Regions from separate parts of the Homo sapiens genome. Here all the other regions are linked to region 2. The links come from fine-mapping of genetic effects on gene expression. A gene starts in region 2. Each other region holds a variant in brackets. All regions are shown on one strand. Distances are between the middles of the regions. Region 1 holds the start of LOC124903292 (a long non-coding RNA gene). Region 2 holds the start of DHRS1 (dehydrogenase/reductase 1). Region 3 overlaps ADCY4 (adenylate cyclase 4).

The links. PIP is the estimated chance that this variant, and not a neighbour inherited with it, causes the effect.
Region 1: its variant is the best candidate, but not a certain one, in a credible set for the expression of DHRS1 in monocytes after LPS (Fairfax 2014, PIP 0.87).
Region 3: its variant is the best candidate, but not a certain one, in a credible set for the expression of DHRS1 in lymphoblastoid cells (TwinsUK, PIP 0.62).

Annotation. Positions count from the first base shown.
Region 1 is chr14:24,381,410-24,391,762 of GRCh38, reverse strand. It overlaps LOC124903292 (a long non-coding RNA gene), which reads left to right and starts at 2,354. Exons shown (of 3, transcript XR_007064086.1): 1 at 2,354-2,618; 2 at 6,129-6,243; 3 at 7,802-7,842. The variant T/AT (reference allele first, on the strand shown) is at 3,248.
Region 2 is chr14:24,294,077-24,302,425 of GRCh38, reverse strand. DHRS1 (dehydrogenase/reductase 1) reads left to right here and starts at 2,646. Exons shown (of 9, transcript NM_001136050.3): 1 at 2,646-2,845; 2 at 3,296-3,469; 3 at 5,545-5,688; 4 at 5,838-5,917. The coding sequence starts at 3,320. NOP9 (NOP9 nucleolar protein) reads right to left here and starts at 2,576. Exons shown (of 10, transcript NM_174913.3): 1 at 2,225-2,576; 2 at 1,569-2,018; 3 at 704-814; 4 at 320-461; 5 at 2-194. The coding sequence starts at 2,471. RefSeq lists an enhancer at 3,302-4,092.
Region 3 is chr14:24,315,333-24,323,846 of GRCh38, reverse strand. ADCY4 (adenylate cyclase 4) reads left to right here. Exons shown (of 25, transcript NM_001198568.2): 17 at 393-503; 18 at 759-943; 19 at 1,139-1,223; 20 at 1,623-1,781; 21 at 3,959-4,105; 22 at 4,411-4,518; 23 at 4,635-4,749; 24 at 5,069-5,193; 25 at 5,279-5,488. The coding sequence ends at 5,431. LTB4R (leukotriene B4 receptor) reads right to left here. Exons shown (of 2, transcript NM_001143919.3): 2 at 5,811-8,210. The coding sequence starts at 8,195. The coding sequence ends at 7,137. Among named protein-coding and RNA genes, the nearest start is that of LTB4R, 8.1 kb to the right of the region's middle. RefSeq lists enhancers at 1,276-2,235, 7,267-7,767. The variant AG/G (reference allele first, on the strand shown) is at 2,754.

The DNA.
Region 1 (10,353 bases), 88 kb before region 2:
CCTGGGGGCAGGTTCAGGAGGATCTACTCCTTGGCTGCCCAAGGACACCAGAGGACCCTGGTGGTTCCAACACTTACCTATATTTACTACCATGAGGCACTGCTGCACTTCGGGTGATTCATGAAGAGAAAAACAGGAGCAACAATGTTTCAGGGCTCGAAGGGTGTTGGGCTGGGCTTCCAAGCTGTGCGGAAGGGGCTTTTGGGGGGAGTATCTGCAGGAGGCTGGAGGGCTGAAGGAGGGTCAGTGAGCACGGTGGATGAAGGGCACATGCCTAGGAGCCACTGATGGCAGGGTGAGGGCAAAAGCTGGTCCCATGGAGGCTGAGGGGTCTCAGGCCATTAGTAGTCAAGCAGAGAAGGACAGGGAGTGGGAGCTCTGGGAAGTCTCTAGCAAGGTTATGACTAACCAAAGCCACTCTGAAGCTAACTGCCCCCCACTTCTCTCAGCCAGTCAATCATTAAGTCCTGCGAGTTGACTGTTTCTCCCTTCTTCCTTGTACTAAGAAGTGTCCACCATGTGCCAAACCATTCTAGGTGCTGGCGATACATCAATGAGTAAGTGCCCTGCTGTCACGGAGCCTGCGTCCAAAGTTGAAAAAAGCAATTGCATAATTATGTTTTGTGACTATATTGTTATGAAGTAAAAGCAATGCTGTAAGCCCCGCAGTTTTTTTAAAAATCAACTTATTTACCTAAGTTTCCTAAACTTACCTCAGAAACCATCCTCCTCCTCCACTTTTTGTGTATATAGAATTTATTTCTAAAGTAGTTTTAAGTTTAGAGCCAAGCTGAGTGGAAAGGAGACTTCCTATATGCCTCCAGTGCCCACATGTGCACAGCCTCCCCCCACTATCAACATCCTGCACCAGTGTGATACTTTTGTTAGAATAGAGGAACCAACATTGACCCAACATTAACAACCGAAGTCCATAGCTTACATTACAGCCTCTTTTTTTTAACAGAACAATGTGTTACCACTGAGACTGGCAGGTATAGGCAGGAGGGAGCCTACAAAGTTTCTCAGAGGGAAGTGGCACACTTGGATTAGTATTTTCTGCACAACCAGTTCGCTCATTTCTCCTTGTCTGACCCAAGAATGTGTCCATATCTTCTGAGTTTCATTTGGTTCAGATGCTACAGACACCTCCCTGGCCCAGGCTACTGAAATGACTTTCAAACTGATCTAGCAGCCACCAGACCATTCGCCTCCCTCACCCCTATTTGGCTCTGAATCCAGACTCCTAGTTAATTGAAGAGCATCACTTGCTCTGTGGCATGAGCTTACTCAAACTTTTCTAGTAACTCCCCAGCAGTGGTTTCCCATGTAATTATCCATAGAACCCATTTGGTGATGGCAGTTGAATACAGTAGTTAAAAACAGACTCTGATATCGGTAGCCCAGAGACTACTACATCCTAGCCCTGGAAATCCCAATTTCCTCACCTTTAAAAAGCGATAGGTGGGGGTGGGGGCGGGGGCTCACGCCTGTAATCCCAGCACTTTGGGAGGCCAAGGCGGGCGGATCAGGAGGTCAAGAGACTGAGACCATCCTGGCCAACATGGTGAAACCCTGTCTCTACTAAAAATACCAAAATTAGCTGTGTCTGGTGGCGCATGCCTGTAGTCCCAGCTACTCGGGAGGCTGAGGCAGGAGAATCGCTTGAATCCGGGAGGCGGAGGTTGCAGTGAGCTGAGATCGCACCTCTGCACTCCAGCCTGGGCAACACAGCAAAACTCCATCTAAAAAAATAAATAAATAAAGCAGTAGTGGGGAGGCCGAGGCAGGAGGATATCACTTGAGGCCAGGAATTCAAGACCAGCCTGGACAACAAAGCAAAACTCACCTCTACCAAAAAAAAAAAAATTAGCTGGAGTGGTGAGTGCCTGTAATCCCAGCTACTCTAAAGGCTGAGGCTGGAGGATCATTTGAGCCCAGGAGGTCGAGACTTCGGTGAGCCATGATCATGCCAGTGCACTCCAGCCTGGACAACAGAGCAAGAACCCAACTCTTTAAAAAAGAAGTGGTAGAGACTATGATGGGCTAGAGATAGAACGTCCAGTCTAAATGGCACAGCAGTTACTCAGCTCCAGTGGCTTGTTGCCAAATCTCCCCATTGTTAAGGAAAAAATATTGTAAACTTGACGTTTATGTGAAATCTAATTTTGTTTCGCTGTAGCAGCTGTAGTAGACTGCAACCTATGGCCACAAATTCCTCCCATCTCTATCTGCCCACCCTTTACAATGGGACATTGCTGCTCCCCCATCAGAGATGAATTCTATTCCCCCTCCTCCCCGTTCTAGCCTGGCCTTGTGACTTGTGTTGGCCAATAAGATGCAGTGGGAGTAACATTTGTAACACTGAGTCGAGACCTCAAAAAGTCTTGCAACTTTGACTTTGAGCCTCTTGGAATGCTCTGTTCTTGTGTAAAGAGGCCCAGGATAGCCGGAAGGAAGGAAATTGAGATACCGGCAGAAAGAAGTCGCATGGGCAGACAGAAGGAAACTCATCTCAGCCATTCCAGCCGCCCCAGCTGAGGCTTCACACTTGGGAGTGAGGCTGTCTAGGACCAACTAGCTAAACTGCCATCTGAATGCAACCACATGAGTGTGCCCAGGTGAGACCAGGAGGAGAATCACCAGGTTAAGCCACAGAACTGTGAGGAAAAGTAAATTATTGTGGTTTTAAGCCACTAAGTTGGGGTGATTTGTTACACAGCCATAGATAACAAAGAGAAATAATTAAGGCATCTTGCCAATCAAATGCCTCAAGTCACCAGTTAGTGATCTCTTAGGTGTGAACTGCTTGAGGACAGGAATCATATCTTGTTGATCTTGGTATCCTGAGTGCCTACCATTGCCTGATAATTAACACATAGTAAATCCTTTGTGAACAAATAAATGGAGCTGTAAGAGGAGCTCCTATCACAGCTGCAGCAGCCTTGAGGATAGGGCTTTATCGTATGTGCCTTTCTAATCCCAACAGGCACTAACATTTTCTCCTGCAGTTTCTATAATCCTGTGTTAGTCATGGTTCTCCAAAGAAACAGAACCAATAGCAGAAACAGAGAGAGAGACAGAGAGAGAGATTATGGGAATTGGCTCATGTGATTATGGAGGTCAGGAAGCCCCACAATCTGCTGACTGCAAGCTGGAGAACAAGGAAAGCCAGTAGTGTAATTCAGTCCAAGTTTGAAAGTCATTTCAGCAGCCTGGGGAAGGGTGGTGTCTGTAGCATCTGAACCAA[T/AT]GAACCTCAAAAGATACGGACACATTCATGGGTCAGACAAGGAGAAGTGAGTGAACTGATTGTGCAGAAAACACTAATCTATGTGTGCCCTTCCCTCAAGAACCTGGAGCTCTGATGTCCGAGGGTAAAAGAAGATGGACGACTGGGCTCAAATAGAGATAATTTGCCCTTCCTCTACTTTTTTGTTCTACTCAGGCCCTCAATGTATTGAGTGATGTGGACCCACATTGATGAGGGAAGATCTTCATTTAGTCTACCAATTCAAATGCTAATCTCTTCCAGAAACACTCTCACAGATGTACCCAGAAATAATATTTTACCAGCTCTATGGGCATCACTTAGCCCAGCCAAATTGACACATAAAATTAACCATCACAAATCCTTATTAAAAAAAAAAGTTTGCTCAATGATGAAGTAGTGCAAATAGAATAACGAAATGGAGTGGCTAATGAACAACGGAGCCAAAAAGAATTGTGACATTTTGCTACATGTTGGGAGAACAAGAGAAGTGTTTGCCTTGACCTAATGGAACCTCAAAGAAACAATAGGGAGTCTCGATGGAGGCAGAAAATGAAGTGTAGCCAGATCCACCCCAAACTGGGAAACCCCAAACCAGGCAGGACTATGAGCAGTAGCCAATGGGTGCTAAGTTAGGAAGTGTCCGAGTTTTGAGGATGGAGAAAATAATACAAAAACAACACAAGATAAAATTGAGGCTGGGCACAGTGGCTCATGCCTGTAATCCCAGTACTTTAGGAGGCCAAGGCGGGCAGATCACCTGAGGTCGGGAGTTCAAGACCAGCCTGGCCAACATGGCAAAAACCCACCTCTACTAAAAATGCCAAAAAAAATTAGCCAGGCATGGTGGCATACACCTGTAATCCCAGCTACTAGGAAGGCTGAGGAAGGAGAATTGCTTGAACCCGGCAGGCAGAGGTTGCAGTCATCCGAGATCGTGCCATCGCACTCCAGCTTGGGTGACAGAGTGAGACTCTGCCTCAAAAAAAAATAAATAAATAAATAAAATAAAATTGAAATTTACCTACTCTGTCTTGGAAAAACCTTTGATGCTAGGGACTGGGGGTTGGCAAGGTACCAAGGCTGATCGAGCCCTTGGGCGTCTCTCTTCCTCTGCCCTTTGCCATCAGGGATGAAGAAGACTTCTCTCCAAGGCTGAGCAGCATCTTTCAAAGAAAAAAAAAAAGAATGCAGTAGGGAAAGGGAGTGCGTGGGGGCTAAAAACCAGCCTCATTGTACGAACACTCAGCCCATATTCCCCTCCCTGACTCTACCTTTTGCAGAGAGGACTGGGGGTGGGACATGCATGTCCTATATTCTACCAGGCCACCCTGAGTGGGAGGGTCCCATTCTGCAGGCTCCTCTGCAGGTTGTTCTTTTGAAACATAAACTCCTGGAGTGTTAGAATTGGAAGGGATCTTAGGCACTGTTTGGATCTATCCAACCCCATTCATTTTACTACTTAAGAAGTAAACAGTGTCCAACTGGGAGCATGAATCCCAGAACCTTTGGTTAAAAGTCTGAAGTTCGATCTGTGGCCTGTCTGGCTGCCTCATTTGAAGACTGCCCTAGATGTTTACTTTTCATCTGATTTCACCCATGTGGTGGGGAATTGGCTGCAGTGTTGTGGAAAAGATCGCCGGACCTGGAGTTAGGAAATAGACTTTCAAATCCCAGCTCTGTCTCTGGCAAGCTGTGGAACTCCAGACATTACTTAAACCCTCTGTGCCTCAGTTTCCTGACCTGTGAGATGGGAATAATAACAGGACAGACTTTTCAGGATTGTTGGGAGATGATTAAATAAGATGAGCTATGTATGTAAAGGGCTTGTCAAGCCTCCTGGAGCAGATAATACTCCTTAACGTGTTTTCTTCTTTTGTTTTTTTTTTTGTTTATTTGTTTTTGTTTTTTTGAGACAGAGTCTCTCTGTCACCCAGGCTGGAGTGCAGTGGCACGATCTCAGCTCACTGCAACCTCGGCCTCCCAAGTTCAAGCGATTCTCCTGCCTCAGCCTCCCGAGTAGCTGGGATTATAGGCTTGCGCCACCATGCCCAGCTAATTTTTGTATTTTTAGTGGAGATGGAGTTTCGCCATGTTGGCCAGGCTGGTTTCAAACTCCTGACCTCAAGTGATCCACCCACCTCGGCCTCCCAAAGTGCTGATATTACAGGTGTGAGCCACAGCGCCCGGCCTCCTTAACGTATTTTCTTCTTCTGCTGCTGCTGCTGTTTTTAATCAATTGCTCTGAGCCTTGGTTTAGGATTGCAGCAAATTTAGAATTAAAACATGTAAAGTGGGTGGGCCACAGTGGCTCACACCTGTAATCACAGCACTTTGAAGCTCAGGTGGGTGAATCACGTGAGCTTAGGTGTTTGAGACCAGCCTAGGCAACATGGCAAAACCCTGTCTCTACAAAAAATACAAAAATTATCCCGGCGTGGTGGTGCACACCTGTAGTCCCAGCTACTTGGAGGCTGAGGTGGGAGGATTGCTAGAGCCTGGGAAGCCAAGGCTGCAGTGAGCAATGATCATGCCACTGCACTCCAGCCTGGGCAACAGAGTAAGACCCTATTTAAGAAAAATTTTTTTTTAATTTAAATTTCAACACTTTTTAAGACTCATGGTTAGGTATTTTGTAGAAGGTCCCCCAATCTGGGATTGTCTGGTGTTTTCTCATGAAAAGACTAAGGTTGTTGATTTTGGCAGGAGTAGCACAAAGGTGATGTGCGCTTCTCGTTGCAGTATATGGGGGCACATGATGTCAACATGATTTATTGCTGGTGATCTTCATCTTGACCATTCGGTTCAGGTGGTGTTTGTGAGGTTTCTCTACTGTAAAGTTACTGTTTTTTTCTTTCCATAGTCCGTAAGAAGGAGGTCCCCAAGTCCAGAGCACACTCAAGGCAAGAGGAAATAAGCTGCACCTCCTGGAGAAAGGGAAATCAAAGAATTTGTGATAGTGTGTGAAAACCACTCAGGTATTCATGTATTTTGGGGCAGATACTTGAAGGCTTTGCAAATGTCCTGTTTTTCCTTAAAGTTTTATCTACTGCTTTTAGCATTAATCAATGGATCTTGCCTGTAGCAATTATTATTGTGATGATCTAATACTGATTTTCTATTTTCCTTATTCCTTATACATTTATAATTAGAATTCTTCTGCATTTAGTTCTTCTCTCTCATTTAGTTATTTATTCAAGACTTTATTTACATCAGTATGGATTCATAAAGGTTTATTTTACTCTTGGAGTTATAATCCAATATTATTATCTATTACCGTTGCTCAAACTGTTCCAGATTTGGCCATTGGGAGCTCTTTCAGGTTGGCTCCTGTGTCCTTTTGATATGCCCCTTCCTTCCCTTTTTTTTTTTTTTTTTTTGCACTTCTTTATTTTCTGGCACTAAAAGTTGTTCCAGGATCATCTTATGTGTTCCCTGTCCCAGCTCAAGAATTAACCATTTTTCCAAGGAACCCTGGCTCCTTTATTGGAGAATATTATTTAGAAACCAAGATCTGGGTGCTAAGTACTCTTGTTGCTAATGGGGTATCACTTCTTTTAGGCCCTCTTTGCAGACAAAGCTAACAAATATAAGTATATATACTAACATACATTTTATATATATATATGTGTGTGTGTTTGTGTGTGTGTGTATACCATATCTATATTTATTTCTCTATCTGTTTGTACATACATACACACCATATAGACATCTATGGATTATAAATCCATATAGAGATCTATAGATAGATAAAGATATCTATATGGATCTATTAAAGATATTCTATACTATTGAGTGTACATATATGTATTAAAATGCACATGAATTCATGCTGATATCTCCAGCTCAAATCCAGCACCACCACCATCCTAACACCCCTCTTCTTTCTGTGACAGTGAGAAACCTGCCTCCCACTAGCGACAGTTTATTTACTTATTTGTTCAACACTGGTATGCATAGAAAGCAGTTGCGGAATTGCTAACCTGTAACAGGCTCTTGACAACCCCAAAGATGGCTTGTACTCAGTGTGAACAAAACTGAGTTCTTCATTTCATAACCAACCCAAACCTCTCTTACTCCTTTTCTCCACTCCCTTCTCTCCCCGTCTATACTCTATCACTGTGATTGACACCAGGCACATGGATGCCATCACTGACATCTCTGTGCCTCCCCTCCCACAGCAAATTACCTCATCTAACCTCATCTTTCACCTCTTCTCCCCACCTCACATGCATGGGCAGGCACACACATGCACGAGCACACACATAACACATATACACACATAGTATGCTCCTGCCACTTTCGTTCTCCAACTGTATCAAGCTTTGGGGCATTGTACATGCTGTTCCATCTGCTTGCAACACTTTTCCTCTTCCCACTCCTCCTGTGATTGGCTAACTTCACGTCTACCTCTTTCAGGAAACCATCCCTGACCACTCTCCAAGCCTATGTCAGGAGACCTCATTCCCTTGATATTGTGAGTTTCTCTCCTGTTTTAGCATTTATCTTTTTTTCTTTTTCTTTTTTTTTAAACAGGGCCTCACTCTGTCACCCAGGCTGGAGTGCAGTTTCACCATCTTGGCTCACTGCAACCTCTGCCTCCCAGGCTCAAGTGATCCTCCCACCTCAGCCTCCCAAGTAGTTGGGACTACAGGCGTGCACTACTACACCTGGCAAATTTTTGTATTTTTTGTAGGGACAGGGTTTTGCCATGTTGCCCAGGCTGGTCTCAGACTCCTGGGCTCAAGCGATCTGCCCATCTTGGCCTCCAAAAGTGATGGGATTACAGGCGTGAGCCACTGCACCTGGCCACATTTATCATTCTGTATTCACAATTCTCACTTACTGTTCCAAATACCTGTGAAACAGCATTTCCCAAATTGTCTCAAGCATTGAATGAAGTATCACTAGAATGTGAGCTCCATGGAGACAAGTGTATGTCTGTTGTGTTCATTGTTGTATCCTCAGTGTCTAGAACAGTGCCTGGCACTATTAGGTACTGGTTAATATTGGTTGAGTGAATTAATTAATGTAGCACTCGGCCTCCAAGATAGCACCATATGACCTTCACCTTCTGGTGTCCCCACACTGAATTAGGGCTGGTCTGTGTGATTAATAGGGTATGGTGGAGGTGACAGTTCCTTCCAAGGGAAGGTTATGAAGTTTCCACCCTGGCTTCTTGGGTAGCTCACGGTGGGGTAAGCCCCAACTGCCATGTCATGAGGACACACAAGCAGCCCTGTGGAGAGCCCAGAGGGTGAAGAACTGAGGCCTCCCACCAGCAGCCAACACCCACTTGCCAGCCCTGTGACTGAGCCACCTAGAATATGGATCCTCCAGTCCCAGCAACACTTCCAATGACTGTAGCCTCATGAAAGATACCAAGCCAAAACTGCTCAGCCAAGCTACTTCCAAGTTTCTGACCCCCAGAAACTCTGAGAAATAGTTTTTCATTGTTGTTCTAAGCCACTACGTTATGGGGTAATGTGTTACATGGGAGTAATTAATGAACACAGTACTGTCCTACAGAAAAGAGCATCATGATTAAGTAAGTTTGGGAAACACTGGATTAAACAGCTAATGGGATTTCTCAGAGGACTCCTCAGAGCTTTTAATATACAATACTCATGAAGAATCCCATCCTCATGTAATGACTTACTCCTTTTTCATCTTATTAACTCTTTCCAGTTTGGAAATGTAGTTGTAAGTAAATCTACAGTCGGCCAGCATCCCAAATAAAATAACACCAAGATTGTCTAAGGGCAGCAGGACAGGAAGAATTTCTTGAGGATTTGGGCCTCAAATTCCTACTTTTTCCTCCTTCAAAAGTCACCTTTCCCTTGGGAATCCCATGAATTATGGCTGCATCTACCAAGCTGGCATCAGAAGACGATGTTCTCCCCTTCACTACTTGGACTCAAACACGGGCACTTTTACTTAACCTTCCATAGCAAAATTGAGATCATAATGACTGACAAAATTTTGCAGGAAACCCAGTGTAGGGAATTCAGTTGGGTCCCCAAAAGAGATATGTTCAAGTCCTGAGCTCCAGTACCTGTAAATGTGACATTATTTGGAAACAGGGTCTTTCTAGATGTATTCAAGTTAAGATGAGGTCATAGTGGATTAGGGTGGGCCCTAAATCCAATGATCAGTGTCTTTTATAAGAGAAAGGAGGTAGATTTGGACACAGACACAGAGGAGCCATAGGGAACAGCCATGTGACAACAGAGGCCAAGATTGGAGTGATGGTTCGACAAGCTGAGGAACATCAAAGCCTGCCAGCAGCCATCAGGAGCTAAGAGACAGGCATGGAACAGATCCTCCCTCAGGGCCTGCAGAAGCAACCGACCCTGCCAACAGCTTGATTTCAGTCTGCTGGCCTCCTGAACTGTGAGACGATAAATTTCTGTTGTTTTAAGCCACCCGGTTTGTGGTGCTTTGGTTCAGCAGCCCTAGGAAAGTAAGACATCCAGGAAGAACTGAAAGGAATTGCTCAAAGGAGCATAAAAGTAGAGCGCCACCCAGCAATGGAGCTGCCTCCTTGCCACTTGGCCCTTGGCTCCCGGCCCTGCCAGGATTCTCCCTCACCTTGGTGGGGGCTGCTTGGGAACAGCCTGGCCTAACTAGTGCCCTCAGGGTTCACGCCCAGGAGAGAGAAGTACAGAGAGATGCTTCCTCTAACTCTACCCAAGGCCTCAGTAACAAATCCCCATTTCCTGACCCCAGACGCTCTTTATTCCAGTAGAATGAACATTGGGACCATCTGTTCCTTTCAGAGAATGTCATGTTCCCACCATAAGGGATGGACTCACAGGTTATCTCAAAACGTAATTGTCTACTGTTACTACAAGAGATACACAAGCAGCGAGAGAGGACAGATTCAGTGCCTTTCTCTGACATCCCAAAGCCGCAGGGACTTCCCCACCATTACTCATTGCTCTGTTCACCTCAGTCTCTAGGCAGGAAGGTCTCTCTCATTAGTGATGAGAGAGAGTCTGCTCTTCCAGGTCAAGGCCGCAGTGAGATGCATGTCCCTGGAGCCTAGCACAGGGCTTGGCACAGAGCAGGGGCCCTGCAGCACTTTG
Region 2 (8,349 bases):
CCAGCTCAGGGGTAGTGACTGCATCCAGTAAGCGCTGCAAAGGGAAGTTGGCAATGGGATGTGCAGCCAGGGTCTGCAGCTGCCCCTGCAAGTGCTCCTCAAAGAGGCTCTGGAGTCTTGGGGGCTCCAACACCAGCAGGACCTGCTCCAGGAGTCTGGAACTCGTCTGATCTCGGAGAAATAGCAGTAGGGGACTAGGGACAAGAAGGGCATCAGGCAGTCTTAACTCCATTTCATGCAAAATACAGTTGCACTACATCACCTCATTCATTTCACACAGCCCCGCCAACTTGGGTCGATCCTGAGGCCCTGACCATACCTGCCATCTACTGAGGAACCGCGAGTACTCAGGTAGCCAATCACAGCATTGCAGAGATGAGCGCAAAACTGGGGAAGTTTGCGGTGTAAAACCTGTAAAGCCACTTGAAGACAGAAGCTGGAGATCTTATCAGTGATAAACACTGTGGAGAGAGGGCAGAAATAAAGCGGCTTTCCCAAAATCCAGACAACCTGCGTAACCTCAAACTTTAGGCAACAAGATACAGGGCACTATGGACACAAAGGGACTATACAAAGTGCTCTGAACGTCAAACCAGACCAGGTTTGAAAAGAAGAGGAATAACCTGAGGTAAGGGCCTTGCTTGGTGGTAAGATGACCTCCAGACAAGTAGATACGAGACCATCCTCCTACTTCCCTCCTTACCTGCAATGTCCTTCAGAAAGGAGGAGCTCAGGTCCTGAAGGCGATTCAAAAAGGTTTCAGGGACTTCAAAATCAGCTGGCTTACATTCCTGAGCTGGGGTCTTCTGTGCTTCTGAAGGAAGATTAAGAACATGTGCAGTGGGGAGATCACAAACTGCCATCCAGGAGAGAAAAATTTCACAGATGAACAAGGATTCCGCTTGGAGATGCAGAACAGATGTAGTACAACTAAATGTCTCTTCTGGATGACTGAACTGAGACTACATTTCTGTCTTAATTTTTCTAAGAAACTTCAACCAGCTTCCCCATGGTCCACAGAAGACAGTTCAACCTCCTCAGCCAGGTATTCAAGCCATTCCAAAATAAAGCCTCATTTAAACTCGCTAACTTTATTTCCTAGTTTTTCAAAATGTGGATCACAGCTCAAGACTGTACCATGAAATCAAGTTAGTGGTCTCAACTAGCATTTTTTTTAAATGAAATAGAGCAGAATAGTTTTGAAAAGGAAAAAAAAATAACAGAGTGGGCTGCATGTAGTAAGGGTATAGTTTCCTGAACTTTTGCTTGAGTCCAGTGTGTATGTTACTTTTGCTTAAGTCCATTTGTATATTAAGTCATGCTTAAAAAAAATTCTCCTCCTGCGTCCATTCTAATAGCCTTCCCCAAACACAACTGTACATCCCTACCTCTGGGCCTCCGCACACACTAATCTTTGGCTTGCTAAGCCCTGTTCAGATTAGGACAGGTCAAGCTAATTCTTCCCGGTCAAGCTCCCCCATGAAGACTTACTCTTCTGTTTACTGTCTCATTCTGAACTTTCTAAATTCTTCTTCCCCCTAGGTCCACTTTCCTCTTGTAATACTTACCAGATGATTGGGAACCACGGGGCCTGGCTCTCTCAGACTCCAGAATAGTCCCTCCTAACACCTGAAGCAGAGTTCTGACCACGAAGCTGCCATGTGTGTCTCCACAGTAGACAAGAAAATCATCACACACCTCAGCGGCTAGTCCCAGGACCAGCTCCTCCAGGGTCTCCGTGGGACCATCCTTTCCATCCTCCTCCTCCTCCTCCTCCTCCTCTGCAGCACTCCCCAGCAATCGAGGGAGCTGTAGCAAAGCACTTTGTAATACATGGACCCCGCATCGGTGACAGGCCACAGTGCGCAAGTTAGAGCGCAGAGCAGCCCACACGCGACAAAGCGGTTTCAAGGGACTGAATCCCAACAGTTCCTGCAGCATCTCACTGCCAGTCCTGTTCGTGGACAAAGCTAGGGCCTGAGTCTCTACTTCCTTCATTATATTGTGCACCATCAGATCTGAAAAGGGAAGAAAGACACACTTTGAAGAGACTTAGTAGAGAATACAGTTATGTACCCTCGCTTAACCAAGGGTCGTGGGTCGGAGGCCGAGGAAGAGGACATGGGAAATGAAACTAAGTCCCCACGCCCTGCCGACCCTAGAAAGTTTCCTTGCCTGCCCTGGATTTGATGCTCTTGGTCTAAACCCCGAAGTTGCTGCCTACCTCGTTCTTCCCCAGTCTCGGGAGCCTCTTTCAATGCTGACAGCGCCCGGCGGAAATATCCCAGAGCTTCCGGGCTCAGGTGCGGGTGCGAATCTGGAGCCGGCTCCGAGCGCCCATCCGGAGGCGGCCAGGGTTGCCGCTTACGGCCTGGTAAGGGGCGCCCCGACCCCTTGGCCCCGCGCCCCCGTTTGCCACCAGCTGGGAACCGGCGCCCCACCTTGTGTGGAGAGCGCGGACCCTGCCCCATGTGTGCTTCGCGACCTGTCCGGCTGCAAAAGCTTCCTTAACTGCGGACGGACCTTCGACGTCGCCAAGCGTGCGCCTTATCCAGACAAAGTTTAGAAACGCGGGCGCGCTCCTGACGCAGCTACTACGTCATAGTTCCGCGCCGCCCCAGCCGGGCGGGGTGGGTGTGTCACCCAGATCGCTCCGCCCCCATCCGCAGGTTCTAACTTTGGCCTGGGACTCTGCCCCTCTACCTCAGCACAGAATCGCCCCGGGTCCTACTACAGAATCAATCCTTGAACACTGCCTCCACGTCGCCGGCTCAATCTGGGCGAGAACCCAGACTTCCACCGCAGCCCCGCAATCTGCAGACCTCAGCGGCAGCGCAGGTGGCAGGTAAGCGGCGCACGCTCGTCCCACTTAGGGCTTAGGATCTCCAGGCTTCGCGCTCATCCCCGGCCCGGAAGCTGCGCCTCTGGCTCAGCCGGACTGGGTCAGGCCAGGGACCGGAGCTTCAGATAGCCCAGGACTCTGCGTGGACGCGCCCCGAGGGGCTGCCGCGCCAGATTCCCATATCCAGGCAGCCACACTCAGAGGGTTGTAGTAGTTGTCCACCTCTGGACAGTCCCACTCAGCCCCTTCTTCACTCTCTGGGCCTCCCAAAAGACAGTCAGCCTTGTCCTCAGGCCCGCACCCAGTTGTCAGCCTCTGACTCCTCTCCCCTCAAAGGATTCTTACCTTGGCTCCTCCTCTTAGCCCTAGTGAGGTTCTCCCCTACCCCCCAACCTCGCCCCAACACACACACAGTCTCCAGGCTTCCCTCAGAGTAAGTCTTTGCTTCCACAGACCTGCCTCCTTTGCCTGTGAGTCATGGCAGCTCCCATGAATGGCCAAGTGTGTGTGGTGACTGGTGCCTCCAGGGGTATTGGCCGTGGCATTGCCTTGCAGCTCTGCAAAGCAGGCGCCACAGTTTACATCACTGGCCGCCATCTGGACACCCTTCGCGTTGTTGCTCAGGAGGTGAGTGCTTCCTCTGGGACCACAGTTGCAGAAACCACCCGAGAGAGCCCTTCCACTTAACAGCTCCTTTCCTAATCCCTTACCTGAAACTATAATACTACTCAACAAGATGTGAATATTTATTCAAAGTGGAAATTAAAAACCCCGTAAATAACTTCAGGTAAGGTAGAATTTTGCCGCCAAGTGAGTTTTATGAAAAAACTTTGTGTTTGAGCCAGGCATGGTGGCACGTTCCTGCAGTCCCAGCAGCTACTCCGGAGGCTGAGGCAGGAGGATCGCTTGAGCCTAGGAGTTGAGCCATGATCACACCACTGCACTCCAGTCTAGACGACACAGCGAGACACTGTATTAAAAAAAAGAAAAGAAAGAAAAGTAAAAAACTTTTTGTTTGAGAGCAGAGATTTTGGAATTGCAACTAAAGGGTTGTGGACCTGTGCTTTCCTCTATTTCAGGCAAGACTTTATTGAACTGCACATTTTTTACTTATTTACTAGACTTCAGTTAAATAAATATTTGAGTATCCATGATTTGCTAGGCATTGGTAAACCACTGAAGTTACCAAGACTAATAAAATCTAATTTCTGCTCTTCAAAGATTCAGTCCATGGTGGAGTACAGTGGCTCATGCCTGTAGTCCCAGCACTTTGGGTGGCCAAGGCAGCAAGATCACTTGAGGCCAGCAGTTGGAGACCAGTCTGGGCAACATAGCTAGACCCAGTCTCTACAAAAAATATTTTTTAAATAATTAGCTAGGCACAGTGGCCTGCACCTGTAGTACCATCTACTTGGGAGGCTGAGGCAGGAGGATCGTTTGAGCCCAGGAGTTCGAGGTTGCAGTGAGCTATGATTGCACCACTGCACTCCAGCCTGGTGACAGTGAGACCCTGTCTCTAAAAAAAAAAATTTTAATTAAAAATGAAGATAGATTCCAACAGGAAGTCAGGTACAGAAAGCAGTCACTTCAATGTAATGTGAATATGGTAAATTATAAGAGGGAGATATGCACAGAATACTCTAGGGGTGTTGGGGAGCATCCAGATGACATAGGAGAGTGGCTAGGGAAAGTGGTTTGGGAAAGCGTCCTGGAGGAGGTAGGTGGTTCTTGAACTGAGTTTTGAAAGGTAAGAATTAGGTAAAGGAAGTTAGGAAAAGCATTCCAGCAGAGGGAGCTCCATAAGCATAGGGACGCTGTGTGAAAGAGTAGATGTGTGAGATAATGCAAGGGAAGAGTAGTGAGTGAGAGGCTGGAGAGGAAAGAGTGGGTCTTGGAAGACCCTAATAGAGAACTCAGGCTTCATCCTCTAAGAGATGGAGATCCAGTTAGGAGATTTTGAACAGGGTTTGTGTTTTAGATAGGTCGTACTGGCTGGATTATGAAGAATTAATTTAAGGCAGACAGACTGGAGGTCAGGTGAGTCGTTGGGAGGCATTGCAGTAGTTCAGGCAAGGAGGGTAATAGGCGGGGACCCAGAGCATAAATTTGGAGAATAGGAGGATTGTTCTTAGATAAAGGACTCTTCTTCCTCTGAAGTTGGAGGTTTGTGGGCATTTGTAGAGAGTGAGACAGAACAGGAAGTAGAAATCATTCATGGCTGATAGCTTTGGTTTTTTCAATTACCAACCAGGAGCATTGGTGGAGTGAGGGTAAGACAACTGGGACTGAGTAGAGGTTTTAGGTGAGTAGTGTAGGGTGGGAGCTAAGGGCATGAGAGATGGAAATGACCACAACAAGGAAAAGGATGCTTACTCATTTCTCAAGAGCAGACTCCATGCCTCACTTGTTCTTACCCTCTACTTGCAAAGTACAATGCTGTGCACATGGTGGGCCTCAGTAAATGTTTGTAGATTATTAAAACTTACATTGCAATTCACCTTGCTCTGTGGTGGGGAGGCCTATCATTCCTGAAACTACTCAAACAGACACCAGAGGGCAGCGTTGCCTGCCATGTTGCCTCTGCAGCAGGCTCTCCTAGGATTGATTGTCTTCTCAGTTCTCAAGCCCACTTTGGTTGGGGAGTTTTGTCATGACTCACACCCATGTGTGAATGTGAGCTCATATCCCCTGTCCTACTCCAGGCACAATCCCTCGGGGGCCAATGTGTGCCTGTGGTGTGCGATTCAAGCCAGGAGAGTGAAGTGCGAAGCCTGTTTGAGCAAGTGGATCGGGAACAGCAAGGGCGTCTAGATGTGCTGGTCAACAATGCTTATGCAGGGGTCCAGGTACCCTTTGAACTTTGTTCCCAACTCCACATTTCTGACCTCCCCCTCAGACCCCTGCATCTTCATCCCCACTCATTGTCCCTTCCATTACCCAGCCCCTCACACCTCCCTACCTTCAGATCATTCATCACCCTCCCTGTGCCTTCCAGACGATCCTGAACACCAGGAATAAGGCATTCTGGGAAACCCCTGCCTCCATGTGGGATGATATCAACAACGTCGGACTCAGGTGGGTGCTCCACTGCCAGGACCCATGTTCCCTCACTCACTTAGCCAACTCGACGGCCAGGCCTTTCCTTACATGCCCTCTCCTTTTCCCTCCGGCCTCCCCCATCTCTTTCTTCTCCCTTCCATTCCATTTGTCCCACTTACCTCTGGAGAAGTTCCATCCAGGTGAGTCTGTACCTGAGAATGTCAACTCTGTCAGTAATTTTCATTGGAACAAGCCCTTGGCCTCTCTCCTGTCTCACTCTCTGCCCATCCAAATGCAAGACCCAGAAGGGAGGAAGCCTCCTCCTCTCAGTAATGCGCACAGCCTGTAGTCTATACTTTCAAAATGGTTAGAGGGAGAAATTGTTTTATTTTAGACTGGGAGAAGCTTAAGAAGAAGGAGCGAACACCAATGCTGTTTAGTCTCCACATCCTCACTCCACACCCACAGGCAAGGGCACTGCCGGGTCAGAGTTGGGAGAGCAGGTACATCACTGGGTCACACAGGGTCATTTAGCCCAGGAGTGAGATGAAACACAGCATTTAGAATTCGCCTAGCATAATGCACACCAGTTATGCCTCTGTTACTGTTGGAATGATGTTACACTCTCATATAATCAAGTCATGCCTGATGGATGTGATCAGTCACCTGTGGGAGTAACCACGAGATTATCGGCAAATCTGTGACTAAAGCATGTAAGAACACCCACCGCTCCAATTTTGGTACTCTGGTAACAATCCCAAGGAAGCAGGATTAGAATGCAATTGTGATTTCCAAAGTGGAAGGAAGATCATTAGGACAGAGGAGGATGGTGAGGCCAAAGGCAAGAAAGGGACACGTTAAGAGCTGGAAATTGGCCAGTGTTCATGACCATAGCCTCCAAAGAGAGGTGCCTTCCACACCCTCATCTCTTGCTGGCCAGGGTTTTGACCCTGAAGCAGAGATTCAAGGCAGAGGCCCAGACCCTCGACCTTGGGCCCTGATGAATTATCCAAGGTAAAGGCCCCTTGATGAGCCCCTGACAGCCCCCCAGCACCTCCTGCCCACCCATTCCCCATGCGCATTTACTGCCTTTCCTCTGTATTACCTTGGGCTGCACTTTCCTTTAAAACTATAACTCTACTTGTTTTCATTTGGAAGGTCCTAATTCTTTCCCTATGCAAAAGAAATTTATTCTGGTTACCAAGTTATGTGTGTGTTACTTTTTTTAAATATGGAAAAAATCTGAAGACCAGTATAATCTTATTCCCCTCAGTGCCATCCCTTGCTCTCTTGCCTGATATATAGCTACTATTAATAGCCTGGCATATATTCTTTCAGATTTTTCATGTAAATATCTCTCATTCTTTTTAATACTTGTACGTATTCTATTGGGAGGATGTATGATCATTTATTTCTCTAATCCCTTATTTGTTGCAGCAGTGGAATTCTTAGATCAAAGAATATGTACTTCCCTTAGGTTATAGAGACTGTGGGAAAAATAGAAAAAAAGAAAAGAAAACAAAGAATATGTACTTTTTAAAGATTTAATAAATATTATCAAGCTCTCCTACAAAAAGACCCTACCAATTTTTTATATCAAGACAATGAAGGGGAATATGTGTTTCCCCATGTCCTCTACCACACCAGGCAGCGTCAGCTCATGCACTCAGGCAAGCTTTGTTACTATAATAAGCCGAAAATATATAAAGGGGTTTTAATTCATACTTCTTCCACTATTTGTCAGGTTGAACTTTTTTTCCCCTTTGTTTATTGGCTCTTTGTTCTTTTGTAAATCATCTTTGACTTTCGCATTAATTTATAAGAGATCACTGTGAAACAAATGACTTTGGCATTTATTTTACAAATATTTTTCCCAATTTATCACTCATTTTTCACACGCATACTCCCCCCACTCGTCTGTTGTTGTTGTTGTTGTTGTTGTTGTTGTTGTTGTTTTGAGGTGGAATCTCGCTCTGTCACCCAGGCTAGAGTGCAGTGTGCAATCTCAGCTCACTGCAACCTCTGCCTCCTGGGTTCAAGCGATTCTCATACCTCAACCTCCCGAGTAGCTGGGATTACAGGCACCTGCCACCACGCCTGGCTAATTTTTGTATTTTTAGTAGAGAACGGGGTTTCACCGTGTTGGCTGGGCTGGTCTCGAACTCCTGATCTCAAGTGATCTACCCACCTCAGCCTCCCAAAGTGTTGGGATTATAGGCATGAGCCACCATACTCAGCCTCGCCCTGCTCTTTATATACACAGAAATATACATGTATCTTTGTATTTGTGTGTGTATGTGTGTGTATCTTAATTTTACGTCAAATCTGTCAGTCTTTTATAGTTTCTGTCTTGGTGTGACGCTAATAAAAGCCTTTTCCCTCAAGTTTATAAACACATTTGATCATGTTTTCTTTCAGTACTTCTGTGCTTTCGTTTTTTATATTTAAATATTTGATCCTTTTAGGCT
Region 3 (8,514 bases), 21 kb before region 2:
TTTTTCTGTGTAGGCAGTTACTTATTACTTAGATCACTTGGCTGATTCTTCAGGATTTAGACTCATTCCTAGAATTCTATTCCTGGTGGGCACCTGGGAATCACCCACCAGCCAAGTTACAGAAGAAGAAACTAAGGCCCAGAGAGGCTAAGTGGCTGGCAAGAGCTCACACAGTGGCTCAGAGTCAGAGGAGTACTCTTGACGCCCCTCACATAACTCCTCCCCGAGTGAGGACCCCAGTGCTGAGGTTCCCTTCCCAACCAGAAATAGCAGGATCCACCCCTTTGGACGAGTCTTCCCCTGACTCATCCCTGGGTCAGCTGAAACCCAGCACAAGCCACCACTGTGCCCAAGAAGCTACCTGCCTCTTCAACTCCTCATCTCCTCTGCAGTTCTTCTTCCCAACATCATCAGACTGCCCTTTCCAAGCTCCCAATGTGTCCTCCATGATTTCCAACCTCTCCTGGGAGCTCCCTGGGTCTCTGCCTCTCATCAGTGTCCCAGTGAGTGTTCCCACATGCCCTTAATCTCCTTCTGCACACCCTTCCTCAGCCCAAGCCCACAGCCCCCTGAGTGGAGGAACGCTCCATTCTGTGGATTAGAACAGACATAAGTCACACCCAGTGTGTATCAGTGTGTATGATGCCCCCTGTCTCCCAGATAGGACCTGGGCCTGGGAGGGACAGGAAGGGAGCCCTCAGGTGTCCCCCCTCTGCCTATGGGACATGCCCACTCCTGACCCCTGCCTGGCCCCACAGTACTCCATGCACTGCTGCACGCTGGGCTTCCTCTCCTGCTCCCTCTTTCTGCACATGAGCTTCGAGCTGAAGCTGCTGCTGCTCCTGCTGTGGCTGGCGGCATCCTGCTCCCTCTTCCTGCACTCCCATGCCTGGCTGTCGGAATGCCTCATCGTCCGCCTCTATCTGGGCCCCTTGGACTCCAGGTGTGCACAGCTGCTGGACAGAGGTGCCGGGCCCCCTGGGATGGGGTGAGATGGGATACAGCAGAGCTGTCCTGGCCTCACCGACCTGAATCACCCACAGGGCAAAGTGGGAGGGAAGCGGAGGCCTACATGGGGGCAGGGAGAAGGCCAGGAAGGGGGAAAGCAAGGGGTCACCCTGATCCATGGCCCCTTCAGGCCCGGAGTGCTGAAGGAGCCCAAACTGATGGGTGCTATCTCCTTCTTCATCTTCTTCTTCACCCTCCTTGTCCTGGCTCGCCAGGTAAGTCACCCAGCTCAGCCCCACCAGGGCCCACCTATGAGTGGCCCCCATATCTGTGACTTGATCTTTCTAATCTCCAGGGTTGAATGCCCATTGGAAGCTTCTAAGCGAGCCTTCCTGCTTCCTTTCTTCTCCTTCACTCCCTGCCCCTCCTTTCTCCCACACCCCTATCTGGGAAAGCCCATGCTTTAGAAAAAGTCTGCTGCCAATTCTCTATCCCTAGTCTGAATCTAATTTCAAGGATAGTCTCTCTCCAAGTATACTTACACCTTAAGCTCTACTTCTAAACTGGGGGTGGGGTGGGGGTGGTTTCAGGCATCATGGAGTTGGGGCTGAACACTCAGGAGCTGGGCTTCCCCTGCTCTGTGTCTCCCCATGGCCCCGGGTGACCCTCCCCAGAATGAGTACTACTGCCGCCTGGACTTCCTGTGGAAGAAGAAGCTGAGGCAGGAGAGGGAGGAGACAGAGACGATGGAGAACCTGACTCGGCTGCTCTTGGAGAACGTGCTCCCTGCACACGTGGCCCCCCAGTTCATTGGCCAGAACCGGCGCAACGAGGTGACTCCTGACCCCCTGACTCCTGAGCCACGGATGCCATAGGGCCTAATTTCAGATGAAAGCCTTGACCTATGGCCCGTTTTCTCTAGAACCCCCAGAAGGGTCACCCAAGCCCTTGTGCTTGTCAAGCGTCTTTGTTTTCACAACATCTTAGATTCTTTCTTTGGTGAGCACAAAACTGCATTTCAAATTCTTACTTGGAAGGCATGTCTTCTCTAACTCATGACCATTCCATACATTCCAGAAGCCTAGGCGTTGATGGGAGCTGTCTGGAGCAGGGGTCCCCAGCCCCCAGGCCGCAGACTGATACTAGTCCATGACCTGTTGGGAACTGGGCTACACAGCAGGAGGTGAGCGGTGAGCCAGCACTACCGCCTGAGCTCTGCCTCTTGTCAGATCAGTAGCAGCATCAGATTCTCATAGGAACTTGAACCTTATTGTGAACTGCACATGCAAGGGGTCTAGGTTGTACACTCCTTATGAAAATCTATTAGGCTGGTGCAAAATTAATCGCAGTTTTTGCCATTAAAAGTAATATAATTAAAAGTAATTACTTTTTTTTTTTTTTAAGACACAGTTTCACTCTCATCGCTCAGGCTGGAGTGCAACAGAGTTTCACTCTCGTCGCTCAGGCTGGAGTGCAACAGAGTTTCACTCTCGTCGCTCAGGCTGGAGTGCATGTAATGGCACGGTCTCAGCTCACTGAAACCTCCGCCTCCTGGGTTCAAGCAATTCTCCTGCCTCAGCCTCCCAGGTAGCTGGGATTACAGGCGCCTGCCACCATGCCTGGCTAATTTTTTTTATATTTTTTTTTTTTAGTAGAGACAGGGTTTCACCATGTTGGTCAGGCTGATCTCGATCTCCTGATCTCAGGTGATCCACCCACCTTGGCCTCCCAAAATGCTGAGATTACAGGCGCACCGCACCCGGCCTAAAAGTAATTACTTTTAATGGCAAAAAAAAAAAAAAAAA[AG/G]AAATGCAATTAATTTTGCACCAACCTAATAACTAATGCCTGATGATCTGAAGTAGAACAGTTTCATCCCAAAACCATCCCCCACCACAGCCTGGGTGCGTGGAAAACTTGTCTTCCATGAAACCCATCCTTGGGTCCAAAAAGGTTGGGGACTGCTGGTCTAGAGGATACAGTCCACCCCTCTCTCTAGACCTGCACTATCCAATATGGTAGCCATTAGCCATATGAAATTTTAATGTTAATTAATTAAAATAAAATATTCAGTTCCTCAGTTGCACCAGCCACATTTCCAGGGCTCAACAGCCACTCGTAGCTAGTGGCCACCCTATTGGACACTGCACATAGGGAATGTTTCCATTGCAAAAATTTCTATTGGATGCTGCTGCTCTAGATCCTCAAAAATCTTGCTAGCGCCAAACCATCAGAAATTCACCCACATATTTGTACCATCTTATTTGTATCATCTGCTGGCCCTCTGCTGTGGAAATGCTCTTGGCTCATATTGAGGGATGTTAAAAGAAACAGCTCAGGAGCTCTTTCACAGCCTTATGCCCCCACCGCCTGCTCCCTGCTCTCAAGATCAGTAGTTCTTTTCTGGTTTCTTCTCTTACAGACACAAGGAATCTTGTAATCGATCCTTTTCTCTCTTCACTTTGGCTGCTAGAAAGCTGAGAGCCAAAATCTAAGACTAAATAGGATTTCATGGCACTCATTTTGTGAACCACCCTCAGATCTGATTCCATCTTTATTATCTTACCCTTATTTTCCCTTTGCCTCATAGTCCCTATTGTTGCTTACTTCATCTTTCATTTTGTACCTATCTTAACTGACTTAAACACTTAAACACATTTTACCCTTGGTTTTGTAGCCGGCTTAATTGACTTAAACACCTTTCAGCAATAAGATAGGATATAGAAATAATTCACATTGACAGGATCCCAGTTCTAGGAGTGACTCCCTTCGTGTTGCTGTGAGGTGATCCTAACGCCAAACCTCTGTCTCTTCTAGAATTACAATGAGATCTAAGCTTTGACTCCTAAGTCACTTCCCTGGGGTAGCCTGGCCCTACTCCTCTCCCTCCTTCCCAATTCTTCTTAAACAGGGAGACCAGGAGTGTGGACATGGGGAGGAGGGCCCCACGCAGACCTCTAGAAGGGAGAGGAACATGACACACACCCCTCACTCCAGTCTCCTGTTCCCCCAGGATCTCTACCACCAGTCCTATGAATGCGTTTGTGTCCTCTTCGCCTCAGTCCCAGACTTCAAGGAGTTCTACTCTGAATCCAACATCAATCATGAGGGCCTAGAGTGTCTGAGGCTGCTCAATGAGATAATTGCTGATTTTGATGAGGTGAAAATTCCAAGAGTCTCCCAGACCCTATGTCCTAGATTCTAGAATTTTCCACCAGTACCTCCTTCCACTTTGCTTTTCTGGCCATGAAGTCAATCCTCCCCTCCACAGTACTCCCTCACCTCCTCTGATCCCCCAGATCTACCCACTCCAGCAACACTGCCCACCACCAACCCTCTCCTTCCTGACACTATCTCCACTCCCACAGCCTGATCCTTTAACTCCAAAGGCTTGGGGCTGGGCTTCTGGGAGAGGTGATGGAGAGAGTAAGAGAGACTGGGGACAGGACTCTTCTCTATATACAGCTGCTCTCCAAGCCCAAGTTCAGTGGGGTGGAGAAGATCAAGACCATCGGCAGCACCTACATGGCAGCCACAGGCTTAAATGCCACCTCTGGACAGGATGCACAACAGGTACGGCAACCCTTCCTTACCTACCATCCTCCTCTGGGCTCTCATTGATGGGCTTATTAGTGGGACTTATTCCTGTGCCCTCACTGGCCCACCCTGGTGGGCGGGCCCATTGCCAGGATGCTGAACGGAGCTGCAGCCACCTTGGCACTATGGTGGAATTTGCCGTGGCCCTGGGGTCTAAGCTGGACGTCATCAACAAGCATTCATTCAACAACTTCCGCCTGCGAGTGGGTGAGAGACTTCCCCTGCTGCAGCAGTCTGGTACCTCCTCACCTTCCTGAGCTTGCCCCACTCCAAGTCCTTTGTTAGCTGCTCCCAGTTCATCCTGAAGCCCCTTTCCTGACTCACTCCCTGGGATGGGGTGTGAAGGTGCTGGGCAAGGAGGTACGAGGCTCTCCCACTCTTTTTCTTAAGCTACATTCCTCCAGCCCTTAGAGACCCCTCCTCTCCTCTAGGGCCCCCCAGGCTCTTCTCCCTTCCTTCCAGTTCCTTGTGGCTTCCTCTTCCCCTCTTCCTTCTCCAAGTCTGTCATTACCACATCCCTCATTAGGGTTGAACCATGGACCCGTAGTAGCTGGAGTTATTGGGGCCCAGAAGCCGCAATATGACATTTGGGGCAACACAGTGAACGTGGCCAGCCGCATGGAGAGTACAGGAGTCCTTGGCAAAATCCAAGTGAGGGAACCACATTGGAGGCATAGGGGGAGGGGGACTAAGAATAGGGCCACCTCCATATTCCCTCGCCCCCCTCCAATTGTAGGTGACTGAGGAGACAGCATGGGCCCTACAGTCCCTGGGCTACACCTGCTACAGCCGGGGTGTCATCAAGGTGAAAGGCAAAGGGCAGCTCTGCACCTACTTCCTGAACACAGACTTGACACGAACTGGACCTCCTTCAGCTACCCTAGGCTGAGATTGCACTCGCCTTCTAAGAACCTCAATAAAGAGACTCTGGGGTGTCTGGAGCCCATTGATGTCTGAAGCTGCTGATATAGCTGGGGATCACCTTCTCATTGCCCTTCAGTGGGAATTCTTCTTCTTCCCAGGCCAATTTTAGTGCGAGTGTGTGTGTGAATGTGTGTGCACATGCCTGCACACATGCATGCATGTGAGACTAAGCATTTTGAAAGGGAGTGATTTTTTTCACAAGCTCAGGAAGAGAACTCCCTCAGCCTCTCTGCCAACTTGATTATAGTATTTTGTACACCTTGGAAGCATAAAGAATTTAGCCACATGACTCAAAACAAAAATTTGCCCTTTCCTGCCCCCTACTCAAAAATACCGGAAGAATCTCCAGGGAAATGTCATTTGAACTTTATTAATTCGACAAACACTAAATAAGTACCTATTATGTGCTCACCATACAGAATGGGCGAGAGGACTGGGAAATACTCCGTTAGGTCCCTCCCAGTTTCAGCTGCTGTTCTCAAATTGGTGCACCATACCTTCCAGTAAGGATCTGTAGACAGCTTGGGGATCTCCTCTTCTTAGGTCCATCCAACATCCCTTTGCTTCCTTCTGCATCCTTCTGCACAGATGCTGGTATATGGGTCTTGAGATATTGATGACTCATTCTCACTGGCTCATACTTTGGGGTCCATGGGAGTATGTCAAACCTTGACATACTAGATTTGTTGCGGATGTTGCATGTGGATATTTGGTTTCCCTCTCTTACTTGCTCTTTTGTTTTTTTATGAGAAAGATCCAAAAAGTACACTGCTGCCACTGTTGTTGCCATCTTCCTAAAACCTTGTCAGAACAGAGTTGGACCAAGGTTCTCTAAAACAACAGTCATCTCTAGGAAATAATGACTCATCCCTCTCACTTTTGGGAATCTTTGTTTCCTGGGGCCCTCAGCCCCACCCTGTGCCAGGGTGTGTTGTGGAGGTTAGCAGATGCTGATATGCAAAATTCTAAGGGATAAGATCTAATGACTTAGTCCTCAAGTCTGGCCTCTTTGTGAAATGGAGGGAAGGAAGGCATCCCCTAGAACATCTCCTATGGAGAGGACAAAGATTATTGGCAGGAAGTTGGAGTCATTCTAACAAGGAGACTTATCACAGGCTTCAAGGAAGATATTTCACAGCAGTGCTGTTTTCTCAGAAGGTCCCGGGTCACAGAACCTGGAGTGATAAGCCCACATGGGTGGTCTTCCTAGACAAGCTGCTTTAGGAGTCTGTAGACTGCGTTTTGCTAAGTATTATCTGCAGACTATGTACTCGGAATCATCTGGGATGGGGGAAGTCTATGTTTCTTTGTGTCCCTTCCAAAATTGTAAATCATGGGGAACTAAAGGACGTGACTCTCAACTACCGAGAGGGGCCCCACCAGGGCGCCCACGAGCACCCCGATACCCACAGCACATGTACCCCACTCACAAGGTTGACCAAATTTCAGACTTCAGTTTTAATGGTTAAAGCTGCCTGTGGGAGCCAGGCTGGAGCACGCTCTCACTCGGCCCTCACTTTGCTCCACCTCTCCCTCTTCTTCCACTCCACTCCCGCCTCCCACGCTCCCACGCCCTCCACGCCCTCCACGCCCCTGCTCCTCCTCCAGGTACTGAACTGGCTCAGAGCTAGCATTCTGCCAGGAGGAAAGTGCGCCTCCTTCCACCAGGCCTAGTTCAGTTCGTTTAACTTGAGAGGGCTGGAGGCAGTGAGGCTCTCGGAAGGGCCGGGCTCCAGAGCGGCGGGGCCGCTCCTAGCGGTCTGGCCCAGGCTGCCCCCGCGGCGCGTGCTGGACGCCTCGGAGCCCGTGCCCTCCAGCAGCTTGGCGACGAAGCCCACGCCCGCCGAGCGCAGCAGGCCGCCGCCGGCGCACGCGTACAGCACGGGGTTCACGCTGCTGCTCAGGAAGGCGAGTGCGATGAGCACGTTGCGGGCCAGGCTCAGCCGCTTCCCCACGAGCCCTAACCCGGCGGCCTGGCCGGCCAGCGCGCGGCCCGCCTCAGCCAGGTTCACCACGTGGTAGGGCAGCCAGAAGGCGGCGAAGGTCAGGATGATGAGCACCACCAGGCGGCCGGTGCGGCGGCTGCGGCGGAAGCGCCGGGCCTGTAGCCGACGCCCTATGTCCGAGTAGCTGGCCACCACAGCCAGGAAGGGCAGCAGGAAGCCCGTGACAGCCTCGAAGATTAGATGGAAGGCCCGGTGCCCTTCGCTGGGGTACCGCGGGAAGCACAGGCTCATGTTCGTTTTCCAGGGCACTACTGTGCGGTACGCGAGGACGGGTGTGGCCAGCAGAAAGGACAACACCCAGATGCCTGCCAGCACCCGCCGGGCCATCGCCTTGGTGCGTAGCTTCTGGGACACAAAGGGGCGGGCCACCGCCAGTGAGCGGTCTAGACTCATGGCCGTGATAAGCAGGACGCTGGCGTACATGCTGACTCCGCAGACATAGTGACACAGGCGGCAACCAGCCAGTCCAAAACTCCAGGTGCCTTGGGCCAGGAAGTGAAGGAAAAAGGGAGCAGTGAGCAATACGGCCAGGTCGGCCAGGGCCAGGTTCAGCACCATCAGGGCAGTGACAGAGCGCTTCTGCATCCTTTTCAGGATACTCCACACCACAAAGCTGTTGCCGGGAAGCCCCACAGCCAGCGCCACTGACAGCAGGATGATAGCCAGCAGAGAGATGAACTCTACACCTAGTGAGGGGGGTGCTGCAGAAGATGTAGTGTTCATGGCCGTCGGGAGGACCTGGAGAGTGAGGGCGGACACACGCATGAGAGTAGAGGACCAAGGGTTTCCTGACGCCATGGACACACCTAGGCTGAGAACTCTAGTCTATCTCCAGGGTCAGCAGCATCAGAGGTCCCCCTGAAATATACTGCCCCCATCGCTGCAGACTGACAACTTAAAGGGATCTGGTTGAGTACAAAGACTAGTTTCCTAACTGGGTCATGCGGCCCCTTCCTGTCCACAGACCCAATTGCAAAATATACAGTGACCACAGCAGCAGCAGCATTTCCAGACCTTTTCAGTCTCCTCCCCTTAGGAGACC